4 linked regions of the Homo sapiens genome follow. The gene in region 2 interacts genetically with the main gene of each other region. Each region holds a gene or a part of one and is shown on either strand. Other genes may lie near its edges.

Region 1 (3,500 bases), on a different chromosome or scaffold from region 2:
GGGCACTGGATTCTCCTGATGGACATCAGACAAAAGAGCCACAACTGTGGAATATAGAATTTATTCTGGATATTGTAGCCTTATGAACAAACTACCTGAAAATCATCTAAAATGAGCTGAAATAGTTAAAAGTACAATACAGGATGTAAGACAATTTCATTTAAAACATCCTCTTAGAAAGTTATAAAAGCCTGACATTAAAAAGATATTTTATGCTGGCCAACATGGCAAAACCCTATCTCTACTAAAAATACAAAAAAAAAAAAAAAAAACAAACCAAAAACCAAAAACCACGTTTTTTTGTAATCCCAGCTACTTGGGAGGCTAAGGTGGGAGGATCACCTGAGCCCAAAAGGCAGAGGTTGCAGTGAGCCAAGATTCCGTCACTGCACTCTAGCCTGGGCGAGAGAGGAAGATTGTCTCCAAAAAAAAAAAAAAAAAAAAAAAGGATGGCTGGTGCAGTGGCTTGCACCTGCAATCCTAGCATTTTGAGAGGCCAAGGCAAACAGATCCCTTGAACCCAGGAGTTCAAGACCAGCCTTGGCAACACAGTAAGACTCCATCTCTGCAAAAAATTTTAAAATTAAATGGGCATGGTGGCATGCACCCGTAATCCCAGCTATATTGGAGGCAGAGGGAGGAGGATCACTTAACCCTGGGAGGTCAAGGCTGCAGTGAGCCAAGCCATGATTGTGCCACTGCACTCCAGCTTGGATGACACAGTGAGACTTTGTCTCAAAAAAAAAAAAAAAAGGTGGTTGGGGGCTGAGCACAGCCTGTAATCCTAGCACTTTGGGAAACCAAGGCAGGTGGATCATTTGAAGTCAGGAGTTCCAGGCCAGCCTGACCAACGTGGTGAAACCCCGTCTCTACTAAAAATACAAAAAAATTAGCCGGGCGTGGTGGTACACACCTATAATCTCAGCTACTAGGGAAGATGAGGCAGGAGAATCACTTGAACCCAGGAGATGGGAGGCTGCAGTGAGCTGAGATTGCGCCACTGCACTCCTACCTGGGTAACAAGAGTGAGGCTCCATCTCAAAAAAAAGAAAAAAAAAAGATATTTTAAGTACGGTTCCTAACTTTAAGAACATATAATTTTTCAAAACTGAGGGACAGAGATAGGAGAGATATTTTCCAATGTATGCTCTTTTTCTTTTGGTGTTTTGGTCTACCAGAAGACAATCTATTTAAAAATTTTTTTTAATTAAAAAAAATTTTTTTTTTGAGACAAGGTCTCACTCTGTCTCCCAGGCTGTAACGAAGTCACAGGATATCAGCTCACTGCAGCTTCAAACTCTTGGACTCAAGTGAGCCTCTGCCTCCGCTGCCCAAGCAGCTAAGACTACAGGCACATGCCACCACACCTGGCTAATTCTTTTATTTTTTTATGAAGAAAGAGTTCCACTATGTTGCCTGGTCTGGTCTTGAATACCTGGGATCGAGTGTTCCTCCCACCTCTGGCCTCCCAAAGTGCTGAGATTACAGGTGTGAGCCACTGCACCTGGCCTATTTAAAAATTAAGTATTTAAAAATTCAGTGGAGGCCGGGCGTGGTGGTTCACGCCTGTAATCCCAGCACTTTGGGAGGCCAAGGTGGGGAGATCACTTGAGGTCAGGAGTTCGAGATCAGCCTGTCCAACATGGTGAAACCCTGTCTCTACTAAAAATACAAAAAAATAGCCAGGTGTGATGGTGCACACCTGTAATCCCAGATACTCAGGAGGCTGAGGCCAGAGAATTGCTTGAGCCCGGGAGGTGGAGGTTGGGAGATCCTGCCACTGCACTCCAGCCTGGGGGACAAGAGCAAAACTCTGTGTCAAAAAAAAAAAATTAAGTGGAAAAAAATCAGAGAACAATACTGATGTAATAAAGGAAGAGCTTGTGAAAATATTAACTCATATTTGTCTATAATTTTTCCAAAATAATTTTTTTTCTGAGCATAAAGATAATATTTACTTATGTAGAGAATTTAAATTATTTGGAGTACCATAAACAAAGTAATGTTGCCCCCAAACTTACCCCACAAAGGCACCAACACTTAAAGTTTTGGTGACAGTTCTCGCTTCTTTTAAATTTTGGGTTTTTATTCATTTGACTTTTTTTTCTTGAAGTATGATTTTCATAAAGATAAGTGCACAAATGTTAGCTGTGCAGCTCAATGGACTTTCACAAACTGAATAAACCTGAGTAAATAGCACCCAGCTCAAGATAGAAAACATTATTGGTCCCCCAGAGACCCTTAGTTTGGCCCTATTCTAGCCACTATCCTCCGAAGGAAATCAATCTTCTACCTTGTAACACTATAGATTAGTATTGTCTGTTTTTTAACTTTACGTAAACAGACTTATAACAAATACACCCTATTGTGCTTTGCCTCTTTCACTTACAGGTATGAGATTCATTCACATTAGTGTACACAGCTGTAGATCTTTCATTCTCAATGCTGTATATAGTACGACACACGAGTAACGTACAAATTATCCATTTTACTCTTAAGAGGCACTTTAGTTTTCAGTTTGTTCCTATTTTGAATAGTGCTAGTAATGTTCTTGTACGTGTCTTTTGGTGAACATATGTACCACTTCTACTCAATATATACCTAGGATTAGAACTACTGGGTAGAGAATACTGCATCATTTTTTAAAGGTGAAATGGGGCCGGGCACAGTGGCTCATGTCTATAATCCCAGCACTTTGGGAGGCTGAGGCAGGTGGATCACCTGAGGTCAGGAGTTCAAGACCATCATCCAACATGGTGAAACCCCGTCTCCACAAAAATACAAAAATTAGCTGGGCATGATGGCGGTTGCCTGTAATCCCACCTACTCGGGAGGCTGAGGCGGAAGAATCACTTGAACCCAGGAGGCAGAGGTTGCAGCGAGCCAAGACTGTGCACTCCAGCCTGGGCAACGAAGCAAGACTCTGTCTCAAAAAAAAAGTGAAATGGGATTCTATTGTATAGATGTACTATAGCTTTTAAAATCACTGTATCATTGATGGGCTTTTAGGTTATTTCCAAATTTTTGCTTTTATCAACAATCTTGTCCAATGATCTCTTCAGGAAAAAATTCCTAAAAGTACAAGTGCTGGATGAAAAGAGTGATGTGGCCGGGCGTGGTGGCTCAAGCCTGTAATCCCAGCACTTTGGGAGGCCAAGGCGGGCGGATCACAAAGTCAGGAGTTTGAGACCAGCCTGGACAATATGGTGAAACCCTGTCTCTACTAAAAATACAAAAATTAGCTGGGCATGGTGGCGGGCGCCTATAGTCCCAGCTACTTGGGAGGCCGAGGCAGCAGAATTGCTTGAACCCGGGAGGTGGAGGTTGCAGTGAGTCGAGATCGCGCCACTGCACTACAGCCTGGGCGACAGAACAAGACTCCATCTCAAAAAAAAAAAAAAACAAAAAAACAGAGAGGAAAGAAAAGACTGATATACGTTTTCTTTTTCACTATATATTGACTTTTCTCCCAGGTCATTCAGAATTTTTAAAATTTTGAT
Region 2 (5,818 bases):
CACACCTAGCTTTTTTTTTTTTTTTTTAAGAGATGGGGTCTTGCTTTGTTGCCCAGGCTGGTCTTGAACTTCTGGGCTCAAATGATCCTCCCACCTCAGCCTCCCAAAATGCTGGGATTAGGTGTGCACCACACACCTGGCCTAAAGCTCCTATTCTATAAACCAGCATTTGGTTTCTTTGACCTTCTTTCTATGCTGGATAATTTTAGAACTGTATCCTGAACATCATAAATGTTACATTGTGAAGATCCTAAATTCTGTTATTTTTCTAAAATGAGAATGGTTTTGTTGTAAGAAGCAATTATCTTTGCTTAACTTGAACTGTTCTGTTTATTGGGCAGCAACTCCAGTTTCAGTTCAGATCTTTTGCCCTTCATTTGGCTGCTCTGAGTCTGTGACACACAGGAATTATTCAGATTTCAGACAGAATCTGGGTACCCTTTCTTGGCTCTTTCCCTTGCAGGATTCTTCCACTCTCTTCAGTGGCCAAGGTTTCCCTAGCTTCAATTTTCCAGTTTTCCTGGTGAAGAGACCCATAGTTTTCCCACTGACATCCCTGCCCTACCTTACTGTCCTTCCCTATACCTACTGCACTTAGCCCTAGACTAAAAGCCTTCTCCTCAGGCTCCCAGCTCCCCTCTTCTCTTTCTCAACTAGCATCTGTTCTTCCTGTCCAGTAATTTCAGTCAGTTACTTTTTGTATTCCAAACAGGTAGTATAGTGGTCTTTTTTGCAGAAAGCCATATGGTAGGGTCTTCTTCCAACATTACCAGATGAATATGTCCTCCACAGGAGGTTTTTTACCTGAGGAATTAGCATGATGAGATTTACATTATGAGCAGATTTCTCTGGCTGCTGTGAGAGAAATGGTCTCAAGGTAGCAAATGAGAGATCAATAGGAAGAGTCCAGAATAGTCCAGGAAAGACAGATCATATAGGGAATAAAGCATCTGACATACTTTGATTTATAAACATTTATTGAAAAAATATGATAAATTCTGAAAATACTGAAACTAAGGCATCCAAATTTCATTTCATCACCTGCTGGCATTATAAACCTCTTAACAGATTTAATAGGGCCAAACTCTTGGAAGTCATTTCATCTAACCCTTAGGTATGATGCATTCGATAGCACCTGTAATCCCCCAACTTTTCAGAGAATGAGATTTCACTAGGTTTCTCAACAGACTTTTCCAGTATCTTACACTCATATATTGCCCATTAATCTCTCTGGGATGAAAAGAAACAGAAGTGGGCTTTTTCCTTATGGATTTATTTTATCTCAAGGCTGTCAAGCAAAAATGCTGAACCCAGTTCCCCACACAACCATTAAAAATAAGATGATGTTCTTTCTTTCATTAAATTATTGGCAGGAGAGAAGTAAGCAGCACCTCATTTGAAATTTCCCTCAGTCAACAACTCTGTGTGAATATGTTCCTATCAATCTACAGTTTTAACGAGAATTTTTTATTATGACACAGAATCAAAAGACTATGAAAGCTTGCTCTGGGCCTTTATCTGGGTGTTGTTTACACGGATGTGTTCAATTTGTGACAAATTCACCAAACTGTCACTTGAGATATATACTTTTCTTAATATGTGTTATATTTCAAATTTTAAAAAAAAGTCTGTGAAAACGCAAATGTATCTATGCCATATCCCTTCTCTATAATGTCAATTATTCTCACAGGAAAAATACACAGTATCCTGTTTGTGTGGCATAACTTATCTTCACAAAGTTATCCACTACCACTCAAGGTTTTTATGATTAAAAATGTAATATAAGACTCAAACACTAAAAATATATGACTAAATAAAAGTCCTCTATAGTTTCATCTGCCAGAGATACTACATTTAATATTTAAATTCAGAGGCTTATGACTTCCACGTCTCCTATTGTAAATCAATCATACTCTTTTCCAGATTTGGGGCTTGTCACTTTTTCTCCAAAAATTCTCAAAAATAAAGGAATATTGTTTAGAAGCCCTAAATAACTGAGCTAAACAGGCTTGAGTACAAACAATTTTTAAACAGTAAATTTCTATTACATCCTCCACAATTTTCCAAGCCTTTATCTTTTTTGTATCTTCACAGTATCTCTCTCAATTCAAGGCATATGGCGTATGTTCAATAAATATGTGTTGATAGAAATAAAATTAATTCTCTAAAAGAAATAACAATAGTCACTTTCAGATGATACAGGAATATCTCAATATCAATTTCTGGGAGGAGAGGACACATAAGCCTTTAAAAAGTACTCTATGTGCTTATTTTATTTACTTATCTATTTATTTTTACTTTCACTTAATTACCCAGATTCAGAAAGTTTTCTTCTAAGTACTCCTTATCAAGTGTAAATTCATTCCATAAGTAGTTATGAAATTCAATAATAGGAGTGTAACATTCTTCTATCAATTTCCCATGTTTCTCTCCTCTATTCACTCTGTCTATATGGCAATACAAGAAAACACTAAGAAATAAATTATCGCTTAGTCATTAAAAATTCAAAACGTAAGGAAATTAAAACTAAGGTTACATGTGCAAATTAGGATTATGGCATACCTAAAGTCTTAATTTTTTAATTACCACTTCTATATACTGATACAAATTAAAAGATATATACTTAGCATGCAACACAGTTTCAAAAGAAACCATTAATTTACAAAACTGATGATTCACAAAGTATTATCCAACTATGTTGATTTGAAGAGCATAACCTCAAGTTGCCACTTTTATTAAAACAAAAGCCTTATCAATAGTTATAATGCTATAAAGAGAATCCTAGACAATATAATTTGTGCCCCTATATTGATTGAACCAATACCTATAATTGAACAATAGTATACATTTTTATACTTTAATAATGGGAAAAAATGAATCCTACTATATTTAACAAGAAAAAAATGCACTTTTTAATAATCTAAATAGCATAATCTCACAATTTAAGAGCAGACATTTGCATTTTCAAATATATAACAACTGTACTTTAAATAAATTATCTAAATACTTTAAAGAATTCTGTTTTGGTTTAGAACAGGGCCCTCAGAAATAATACCACACATCTACAACCATCTGATCTTTGACAAACCTGACAAAAACAAGAAATGGAGAAAGGATTCCCTATTTAATAAATGGTGCTGGGAAAACTGGCCAGCCATATGTAGAAAGCTGAAACTGGATCCCTTCCTTACACCTTGTACAAAAATTAATTCAAGATGGATTAAAGACTTAAATGTTAGACCTAAAACCATAAAAACCCTAGAAGAAAACCTAGGCAATACCATTCAGGACATCGGCATGGGCAAGGACTTCATGACTAAAACACCAAAAGCAATAGCAACAAAAGCCAAAATTGACAAATGGGATCTAATTAAACTAAAGAGCTTCTGCACAGCAAAAGAAACTACGATCAGAGTGAACAGGCAACCTACAGAATGGGAGAAAACTTTTACAATCTACCCATCTGACAAAGGGCTAATATCCAGAATCTACAAAGAACTCAAACAAATTTACAAGAAAAAATCAACCCCATCAAAAAGTGGGTGAAAGATATGAACAGACACTTCTCAAAAGAAGACATTTATGCAGCCAAAAGACACATGAAAAAATGCTCATCATCACTGGCCATCAGAGAAATGCAAATCAAAACCACAATGAAATACCATCTCACACCAGTTAGAATGGCGATCATTAAAAAGTCAGGAAACAACAGATGCTGGAGAGGATGTGAAGAAATAGGAACACTTTTACACTGTTGGTGGGACTGTAAACTAGTTCAACAGTGTGGCGATTCCTCAAGGATCTAAAACCAAAAATAGCATTTGACCCAGCCATCTCATTACTGGGTATATACCCAAAGGATTATAAATCATGCTGCTATAAAGACACATGCACACGTATGTTTATTGTGGCACTATTCACAATAGCAAAGACTTGGAAGCAACCCAAATGTCCAACAATAATAGACTGGAGTAAGAAAATGTGGCACATATATACCATGGAATATGTGGCACATATATACTATGCAGCCATAAAAAAGGATGAGTTCATGTCCTTTGTAGGGACATGGATGAAGCTGGAAACCATCATTCTGAGCAAACTATTGCCAAGACAGAAAACCAAACACTGCATGTTCTCACTCATAGGTGGGAAATGAACAATGAGAACACGTGGACACAGGGTGGGGAACATCACACACTGGGGCCTGTCATGGGGTAGGGAGAGGAGGGAGGGATAGCATTAGGAGATATATCTAATGTAAATGACAAGTTAATGGGTGCAGCACACCAATATGGCACATGTATACATATGTAACAAACCTGCACGTTGTGCACATGTACCCTAGAACTTAAAGTATAAAAAAAAAATCCGTTTTGTTTTAAAGTGGCATGTTTTAAGAAAAGCTATTCTTAAATAAATCACTGTGCTGTATTAGATGGTTTAGGGTGCTCGATTAAAGCTCCATTCTAATATTCCACTTGATCCTTGGGCTATAGACTGAAATAACATTATTCATTAAATTCCCTATATGTTCTTGAGGTAGATGTTAAGAAACACCTCTCACTAACAATAATTTGTTAGCCATATGCACATGAATGAATTTCTTCAATTATTTAGCTACTTACTGAGAGCCATGCAAGGGATTCCATGATTCGATGTTCACATCGTTCTAAATGTTTTATCATTTCTCTTGTCAAGTTGCCTTCTGCTTTGATAAAACTTTCGATCACTTTGTAAAAATCAAAGGCTTTTAAATTAAGCACATTCAGAATCCATGGGAAAGACAAATCTGTTCCAGAATCAAGATTCTGAGATGTACTTCCTAAAAATGAAAAAAAAAAGTAACTATTTATGAAATATTAACCCTTGAGCTAGGTATTTTTTTGGAAGTTATTATCAGACAAAGAAAACAGTAGAAAGGTTAAACCATTTTTATTTAGAGCAGAATTTTTTATTTTGGAGTCTACGGACTCATAGGAAATAGCCTTCCAATTTTGAGTGTAAGCAAATCTGTGTTTTTCCTAGAGAAAGGACTTATAGCTGATCTCAAATTTTCAAAGATTTAAATACCCTAAACTTATATCAGGAACAGGTTTAGTATCTTATCAGCCATTGGCATATCTATTTTAATTCTCATTAATCCTTGGTAAGAGGATAGACAGATTCTTCAAGATTCTGCTAATTTCATTAGTTACAAAATGGTATCTCATTAAAATATGCATTTCTTGGTTATAAATGAGGATTCACAGTTTTCCTTATCTGTTTACTAATAAGGAAACTAAAAGTTCCTCTTTTTCTGTGTTTTGCATCCTTATACAAATGTTCCTTTTGTTTCTGCAAGCAAAACTTTCTTTTAACATTTGCAACATAATTTGCAAAGTGATATACATTTATGTTTTTAAAAACATTGTAATTGGCCTTTGTTCTGTTTATCCAGTGGATTCTAGCTTCAATCTTTAGTTTCATAACCATGGAGGTTACAGCAGTGCTTCCATATCAGTAGAGGCCACTCTTGAATACTCCTTTGGCACTCTACAATCTCAAAGGTCTTCGGAGGGATTTCAAAAAGTACCTTTTTTGGATTCAGTATACCAGTATACTCAGAAGAGAAGCCTAGTGAAATATTATCCCCAAGATGGCCTCAAATAACTCAAATAAGCCTCTTAAATGGCTTATAATGACCAATTACATTCTTCAGTATATAGTGATCTAAAATAAGCATTCCTTCTCCTTAACCTCACACTATCCCTCTCCCCCGACCAAAGAAACACACCACATTTTAACTTTAAATTGAACAAAAGTGTTTATTTATGAAAAT
Region 3 (3,500 bases), on a different chromosome or scaffold from region 2:
AAAACCCTACACCTCCCTCCCTTCACTTGTCTGTCCTCTTTTCTCCTCTTATTTTAAGTCTTCCAATCCTACTCTCCTTTGCTTATATTCCAAGCTGTTGGTTGGCTTCTTCATTCATCACCTCTTCCACACTCCTGCCAGAATTTCTCCCATCATTCAGACTTGATCATGTCATGCTCCTGCCCAAAATCCTCTGTAACTCTCTCTGCCCCTTAGGTTAAAATGAAGATTTTCCCAGTCTTCCCATACCAGGGTGGTACCAGGCAAAATTAGATGCTTTCTCACATGGGCCCAGTAGTCTCTGTACCTATGATAATTATATAAAATACTGGATTTTTATTATCTGTTGCCCATTTTGAACATAGAGCCCCCTTGAAACAGAGACCAATCATTGTTGTATCCCCTGTTTTGATTTAAGTAGAGGCTCAATTAGTGCTTGTTGAATGAATGCTCACTGAACCGACGATGCACTGTGGGTGATTTGTAAGAAATATCACACAGGTGTGAGTTTGGAATATCAGTTCAAATCCAGGCTCTTCTGCATACTAGGTCTCTGCCATCAGCAAGTAACCTAGTCTCTTCTGGCCTCAGTTTCTTCATCTCTAGAATAGGTTAATCACCTTCACCTCTCACACTGTGAGGATCAAAGGAGATTTTAAAAAGGTCCAGCATAGAGGCCAACCTGGGTTAGGTATTCAGTAAATTCAGGGGCTTTTTTCCTTTGTTTGTTTGTTAAGACTCTTATCACATCCTAAAACATTTTACCAGATACTGAGACCATATGACAAATGAACCCATTGGAGCAATGTTTCTCCCGTCTCCGCTGTTTTTACCTCACTTCCAACCAACCTACACCATGTAAGGAAGCTGGACTTTGCAAAACAGTGGTGGCACTCCTGTTGATTCTCTTCTGACTGTTGTTCACTTCTGTTTTTTAGACATTGTCAGAATGTTGCCAGAATCCCCCACCAGTTCGAGGGGAAGTCATAGCTCCCAGATTTGGGAGTTTATAGTGGCCCTGTCTTCACTCAGCTATGCTCCCAACTTGTTTTTCCCCACTAATCCAAGTAAAAAGAAAGCACAATTATTTCTTTGCAACTCTGATTTCTCCTTGTCACTTTTAAGGAATTTTCAGCCTCAGCTTTCTTTGCTTTTCTTTTTTGAGACAGGGTCTCACTCTGCCGTCCAAGCTGGAGCGCAGTGGCATGATCATAACTCACTGCAGGCTCAAGCGATCCTCCCCATCTCAGCCTCCCGAGTAGCTGGAATCACAGGCACACTCCACAACACCTGGCTAGTTTTTTTTTTTTTTTTATTTTTGTAGAGACAGGGTCTCGCTGTGTTGTCCAGGCTGGTCTCAAACTGTTGGGCTCAAGCAGTCCTCCCACCCCAGCCTCCTGAGTAGCTGGGACTACAGGTGTGAGTCACCATGCCTGGTCTAGCCTCAGCTTTCATACCCAGCGAGCCACCAAGGTTGATTAAGGTGAGAGGGACATTATAAACTCCAGATAGAGAATTCTGATTTTCCTGTAACCTCACATCTACTTCTCTGGTTTTTTTTTTTGTCTCTGAATTCAGAGTGGCCCCAGTTGCCTCCCTAGGGATGATAGGGGAACATGGCATTTCATAGGAGCCAATACTTTCAGCCCACAGCTGTCACCAGAACTTATATGCTTTCCTTTTTGGGCTGAGGGATACTTAGTGCCCTCTGTTAGACTCCCTGGGTACCATGTGACTAACCAGGAAGCCCATCAGACCCTCTGGAAAGACAGCCACAGAATGCACCCAAGACATGGCAGGTGGAGATGTCAAGTACCAGGATTGTAAGATTCCAGAGAATGATTGTAGTTATTTTGTTTGTTCATAATAAAATAAGTTTATAGTCAAAGACTTTAAAAATACAGAAAAACGCAAAATTATTTGCCCATTATCTCACCTCCAGACATACCCACTGTTAAACATTAAATTGAATGTCCCTTCAGTATTTTTATGCATATTTTTAACAAAATCGGGATCTCATTATATATACTATGTGTACCTTGATTTTTTTTAACTGAATAATACACCTTGAACATTTCTCCATGTCAAAGATTTTTCTAAAAGGGTAGTTCTAAGTCTTTTTTGCAACCTAGACACCTTTGAAAATCTGGTAACAAGTATATACTCTCACCAGTTTGGAAAAAATACCACTTAGTTGGCAAACTACATAGAATAATTTCTGTATCATTCCTGGGGTTCACAAATACTCTAAGCTCATCCCTGAATCCCAGGTTAAGAATCTTTACCCTAAAACATGACTTTTAATAACTACTTAAGATTCTCATATGTATAAATGTTGGCTAATGTGACCATTTGGATTACTTTCCATTCTTTTTTAAGTAGTACTTTAATGAAACGCCTTGTCAGTAAATCTTGCATAGCTCTCTGATTACTGTCTTAGGATAAATTCCTATTAGTGAAATTGCTGGGTCAAGAGCATGCCCACTTTGAATGCTTTTGAGACTGAGCTCCAGATCATTATTTGCTTATAATCTGTGAGTGATTGTTTTAAACCATTTCTAAGCATCATCTTGCTGTTCAGTCTTCTAATCTCCCTCTCTCTTCTTTCTCCATTGACACAGCTCCAACCAGGAGATTCAGACCTACGCCATTGCACTGATTAATGCACTTTTTCTGAAGGCTCCTGAGGACAAACGACAGGTCTGTGGCTGCCTTTTCACATTTTTCATCTGGGCTCTTCTGAGATAATTCTCACCCCATGCACTCTTTGCTATGCAGAGAGCACAAATCCAGCAATTTTCCCAAGAGTTCTTCCTCTTAGCTGTCTGGTCTGGAGCCCAGGAGGGTGGCTTTGCTAAGGAAGACCCAGGGAAGACCTATGAGGGGAAACCAGCTGGGTCTTAGATGAGAGCAGGGCCCTTCAAACTTTTTCCTCTAAAGGGCCAGAGAATAAATATGTTTGACTTTATGGGCCATATGGTCTATGTGATAGCTACTCAACCTTGCCATTGTAGCCAAAAGCAGCCTCGGCCAGTAGGTAAATGAATGGGTATGGCTGTCTTCCAATAAAATCTTATTTACAAAAACAGGCAACAGGCCTAATATGGCCATAGTTTGCCAACTCCTGGGTTACAGAATCAAGAATAAGGAAGAGGAGACCCTGTGGCTACCCTGAGTCCAAGGAGTCCAATATGAATGGGATTTCACACTAAATCTTAGGTTTAAAGGTTCTCTGATGGAGATTCTAAACATCTTCCTTCCCCTGTTCATTAACTGTGACATTATGCAGATAGCTCTGCCTCTGTGAACCTTAGTTTCCTCACCTGTCACATGGGAGCAACAACATCTGCCTTGTTTACCTCACAAGGATGTCTGAGGAAAAACAAGATCCCTGTTTCACAAATAAGGAAACTAAGAATCAGCTGGGTGGTGGAACAAACACTGACCTAAGAGCCGAGGGGCCTGGGACTAAGTATTCTCCCTGCTGCTGGCTGGACAAG
Region 4 (3,500 bases), on a different chromosome or scaffold from region 2:
GGTTCAGGCTCGGAACTGGTACTGAGTGACTCCCACCCACCGGGTACTTTGGATGAGAACTGCACCCAGGCCAGCATTAGCAGCTAGCTCAGCGGCCAGCACCCTCTGCTGTTGGCTCTCCTGTGGCTGCACCCCTGACAGCCAGGTCTGATGACCCAGATGGCAACCACTGCAACTGGAGTGGTGTGGGCTCTGCTGTCGGGCACACACTGAGTCACAGTGAGAACCTCCTCCACCGTCTCTACAAAAAATTTTAAAAATTAACCAGCTGTGGTGGTGCACGCCTGTAGTTCCAGCCACTCGAGAGGCTCTTGAGAGCTACTTGAGAGTAGTTCCAGCTACTTGAGCGGATCGCTTGAGCCCAAGTCAAGGTTGCAGTGAGCCATGATATACTCCAGCCTGGGCAACAGAGTGAAGACCCTGTATCAAACAAACAAAACAAAACAAAAAACCAGCCCTCGGCCTACTTTTGGCAGATTTTCTTAGAGCTGACTCAGTAGCACAAGGGTGAGTGTTGGGACTGAGATCCACAGGCTGGCTGTGAGACTGAGCATATCCCTTTACGATTCTGGAGCTACACTTTGGGAGCTCTAAAATAAGAGGAAGTGCACCAAATAGTTTCTTAGGTTCCTCCAGTGCGCACGCGCGCGCATGCACACACACACACACACACACACACACACACACACACACACAATCTATGGGCTTATGTTCTACAGAATGCCTCGAGTAGCTGGAGAGGCTGGGGGATGGCGTTCTCCACTCCATCAGTCTCACAGACATTCTGTGCACCCCATGGAGACATGGGGTCCCTATATTCCCCACTAAGACCAGGAGTTACAATGCCCAGAGATCATGTTCTGTAAATATTCCTTGACTGAGAAAGGGTTAAACTATCTAATGCCTCCAAAATACTTCAATGCTGAAGAACAGCGCTTGTATAGCCCAAGTTCTTCTCTGCCTGAATCAACTTGTCCTCTAAAGCTTTGATGCCAGACTGGGATTCTGCTTAGGTAAGAGGCCTGCAGTACTGGGCTGACTCTTCACAATAGAAATACAAATCAGAAACAGATCACTTGAGGCACCCATTAGAAATGCACACGCCCAGGCTGCTGGGCAAACCACAAATCTGCTAACGCAGAAACTCTGATGGTGTGGGGCACAAGGACCTACACTTTCAGTAAGTGGCAGGGGCTGGGTGATTATTTGAGCCTCCTCTCATTTCCCCTCAAATCACCTTAGCAGGGGTCCTGTGAAATAGGGTTCATCAACAGGAACAGTGCCTGCGTCCTGGAGATGGCAGGAGCCCACATTTCTAAAGGACAGGAGCATGTGACTCTTAGCAGGAGGCAGACCTCAAGGCTGTCTCACTGCAGAGGCAGAAATGTGAATAACCAGTGAAGTGGTTCTCAAAGTCCAGTCCCTGCGCAGGCAACCGCAGCATCACCTGGGACCTTTTTGGAAACGCAAATTCTCAAGCCCCATCCCAGAGCTACCCAGAGTCAGAAACGCTGCGGGTGGGGCTGGTACCTGTTTTGACAAGACTCCAGGTGACTCTGATACCTGCTAAAGTGGGAGAACCACTGACACATGGAAGTGACAGCCAGGGAGGTGGGCGCCTGAGACCTCAGCACATCACTCCAAAGGCCTCTCAACATATCACTCCAACACTGAAGACACCTAAGAGATTCCTGCAAGTTTTTGTCAGAAAATTCTTCTCCCCTTCATGACTTTTGGCTTCCCCAGAGTAGCCCTGAGGGCCAACTCCCTTCCTGCTCCTTCTGTGGCCACTTCTTCCTTGAGAGTTGGTCTCTCCCACAGACAGCATTTCCCTGGAGATGCAGCACTGGGGACATGAAGCCCAAATTGGACTTTAGAGCAGAAGCTCTTGAAGTAAAAACTTCAGGAGGGAATATAATAAAAACCTGAGTTAAAAATCCTAGGCTTGTAGTCCCAGCTACTCGGGAGGCTGAGGCAGGAGAACTGCTTGAACCAGAGAGGCAGAAGTTGCAGTGAGCCGAGATCGTGCCACTGAACTCCAGCCTGGGCGACAGTGAGATTCTGTCTCAAAAAAAAAAAAAAATCCTAGGCATTCCTCTGAGTCATTAAAGAACAGTGGGCCATCAGCTGACAAGGGTGGGGAAATGGCTGATCCTGTGCCACTTCCTGCAGGTGGGCCCCAAATGAGAAGGAATGTGAGTGTGCTGGTGCAATGAGCACCGGGACAGCCCTCACCCTGCCCCTGCTCAAACACCACCTTGAATGTGGGCTTTCTCTTTATTATTAATGAAGGCTTACCTCCCCTCTACTAATGACCGTTGGGACAATTATGTGGGATCCTTAAGCAAATACCCAAATGGAATCTTAGACCTCCTAATTGTGAAGTCAGTCACAGGAAGCTGTCACTTGTGTTACTACTGGTCCATAATTGCTGGCTAGGGGAAAAAATGAGCCCAAACCCCAACTCCGGTTGTTGAAATAACAGCCAGATACTAGCTCAGGAGCTGAGCTATAGTCACCTTCCCCTTCCCCACCTTCCCCTCTTTGGAGAGTGAGCAATGGCAGTTCTGGGAACCAGCCCATGTGGATACCTGGACTATCACTTTTAGGCCAGAGATGGAGGGGAATGGCTAACAATTAGGTATTATTTGGGCAACACATTAGACAGAGAATACAGGACACAAGAAAAGCTGTGCTGACTTTAGCCTCTTGGTGCCCTAGAATTTTTGTCTTACTGCAATTAGGCTGGGCACAGTGGCTCACACCTGTAATCCCAGCACTTTGAGAGACTGAGGCAGGAGGATCGCTTGAGCCCAGGAGTTGAGACCAGCCTGGGTAACATGGCAAGACCTCATCTCTACAAATAATAAAGAAATTTAGATGGACGTGGTGGTGCATGCCTATAGCACCAGCTAATCTGGAAGCTGAGGTGGGAGGATCACCTGGGAGGTCGAGGCTGCAATGAGCCGTGATCTCACCACTGCACTCCATCCTGGGCAACAGAGTGAGATCCTGTCTCGAAAAAAATTAAAAAATAAATAGAATAACAAAGCAGTCTAGTCCCATGGAGAGATAGGAAGGATCCTCAAATGTGGAAGACCCTAACCCAGACAGGACTGTGGCTGTCTAACAAACACCAGTCTCAAAAAAAGCAAGCTTAAGAATGAACTTATTATAGTATCAATGCGGTGATTACAAATTACTCAATATTTCCTAAAGACCATGAGAACTCCAGAACCCATTCTTACACAGGCCCTGTGGAAGAATCCAAGCAGGAATAATTGGATTATTTCCAGCCAGTGACTTTCAGGAGGACCACATATCTTCAATGTCTTCACATTGTATCTGAAAAATGTATCTGAAGCACTCAAACACCAAGTCTACTCAAATACGCTTCCCAAGCAGCTTTTCTGTACATCTCTGCTGCTTCCAGACGATCAGCTGCTGAGATTATGCCACGACCTACAATGATGATATCGGAACCTCGTTTGCCAATAACT

What was found. Genes that interact genetically often act in the same process or in processes that back each other up.
Region 1: changes in RB1 (region 2) and SAP130 together harm fitness more than expected from each alone (negative genetic interaction), as found in Homo sapiens cells (one large-scale study listed by BioGRID).
Region 3: changes in RB1 (region 2) and ELMO2 together harm fitness more than expected from each alone (negative genetic interaction), as found in Homo sapiens cells (one large-scale study listed by BioGRID).
Region 4: changes in RB1 (region 2) and UMPS together harm fitness more than expected from each alone (negative genetic interaction), as found in Homo sapiens cells (one large-scale study listed by BioGRID).

Annotation. Positions count from the first base shown.
Region 1 is NC_000002.12:128,018,060-128,021,559, forward strand, and holds part of SAP130 (histone deacetylase complex subunit SAP130), read right to left. Parts: intron 1-3,500. UniProt on the Homo sapiens protein: Acts as a transcriptional repressor. May function in the assembly and/or enzymatic activity of the mSin3A corepressor complex or in mediating interactions between the complex and other regulatory complexes.
Region 2 is NC_000013.11:48,380,251-48,386,068, reverse strand, and holds part of RB1 (retinoblastoma-associated protein), read right to left. Parts: intron 4,823-5,818; coding exon 4,626-4,822; coding exon of another isoform or gene 4,614-4,625; exon of another isoform or gene 1-4,613. UniProt on the Homo sapiens protein: Tumor suppressor that is a key regulator of the G1/S transition of the cell cycle. The hypophosphorylated form binds transcription regulators of the E2F family, preventing transcription of E2F-responsive genes.
Region 3 is NC_000020.11:46,382,616-46,386,115, reverse strand, and holds part of ELMO2 (engulfment and cell motility protein 2), read left to right. Parts: intron 1-2,621; coding exon 2,622-2,700; intron 2,701-3,500. UniProt on the Homo sapiens protein: Involved in cytoskeletal rearrangements required for phagocytosis of apoptotic cells and cell motility. Acts in association with DOCK1 and CRK. Was initially proposed to be required in complex with DOCK1 to activate Rac Rho small GTPases.
Region 4 is NC_000003.12:124,743,952-124,747,451, reverse strand, and holds part of UMPS (uridine 5'-monophosphate synthase), read right to left. Parts: coding exon 3,368-3,500; 3' UTR 1-3,367. UniProt on the Homo sapiens protein: Bifunctional enzyme catalyzing the last two steps of de novo pyrimidine biosynthesis, orotate phosphoribosyltransferase (OPRT), which converts orotate to orotidine-5'-monophosphate (OMP), and orotidine-5'-monophosphate decarboxylase (ODC), the terminal enzymatic reaction that decarboxylates OMP to uridine monophosphate (UMP).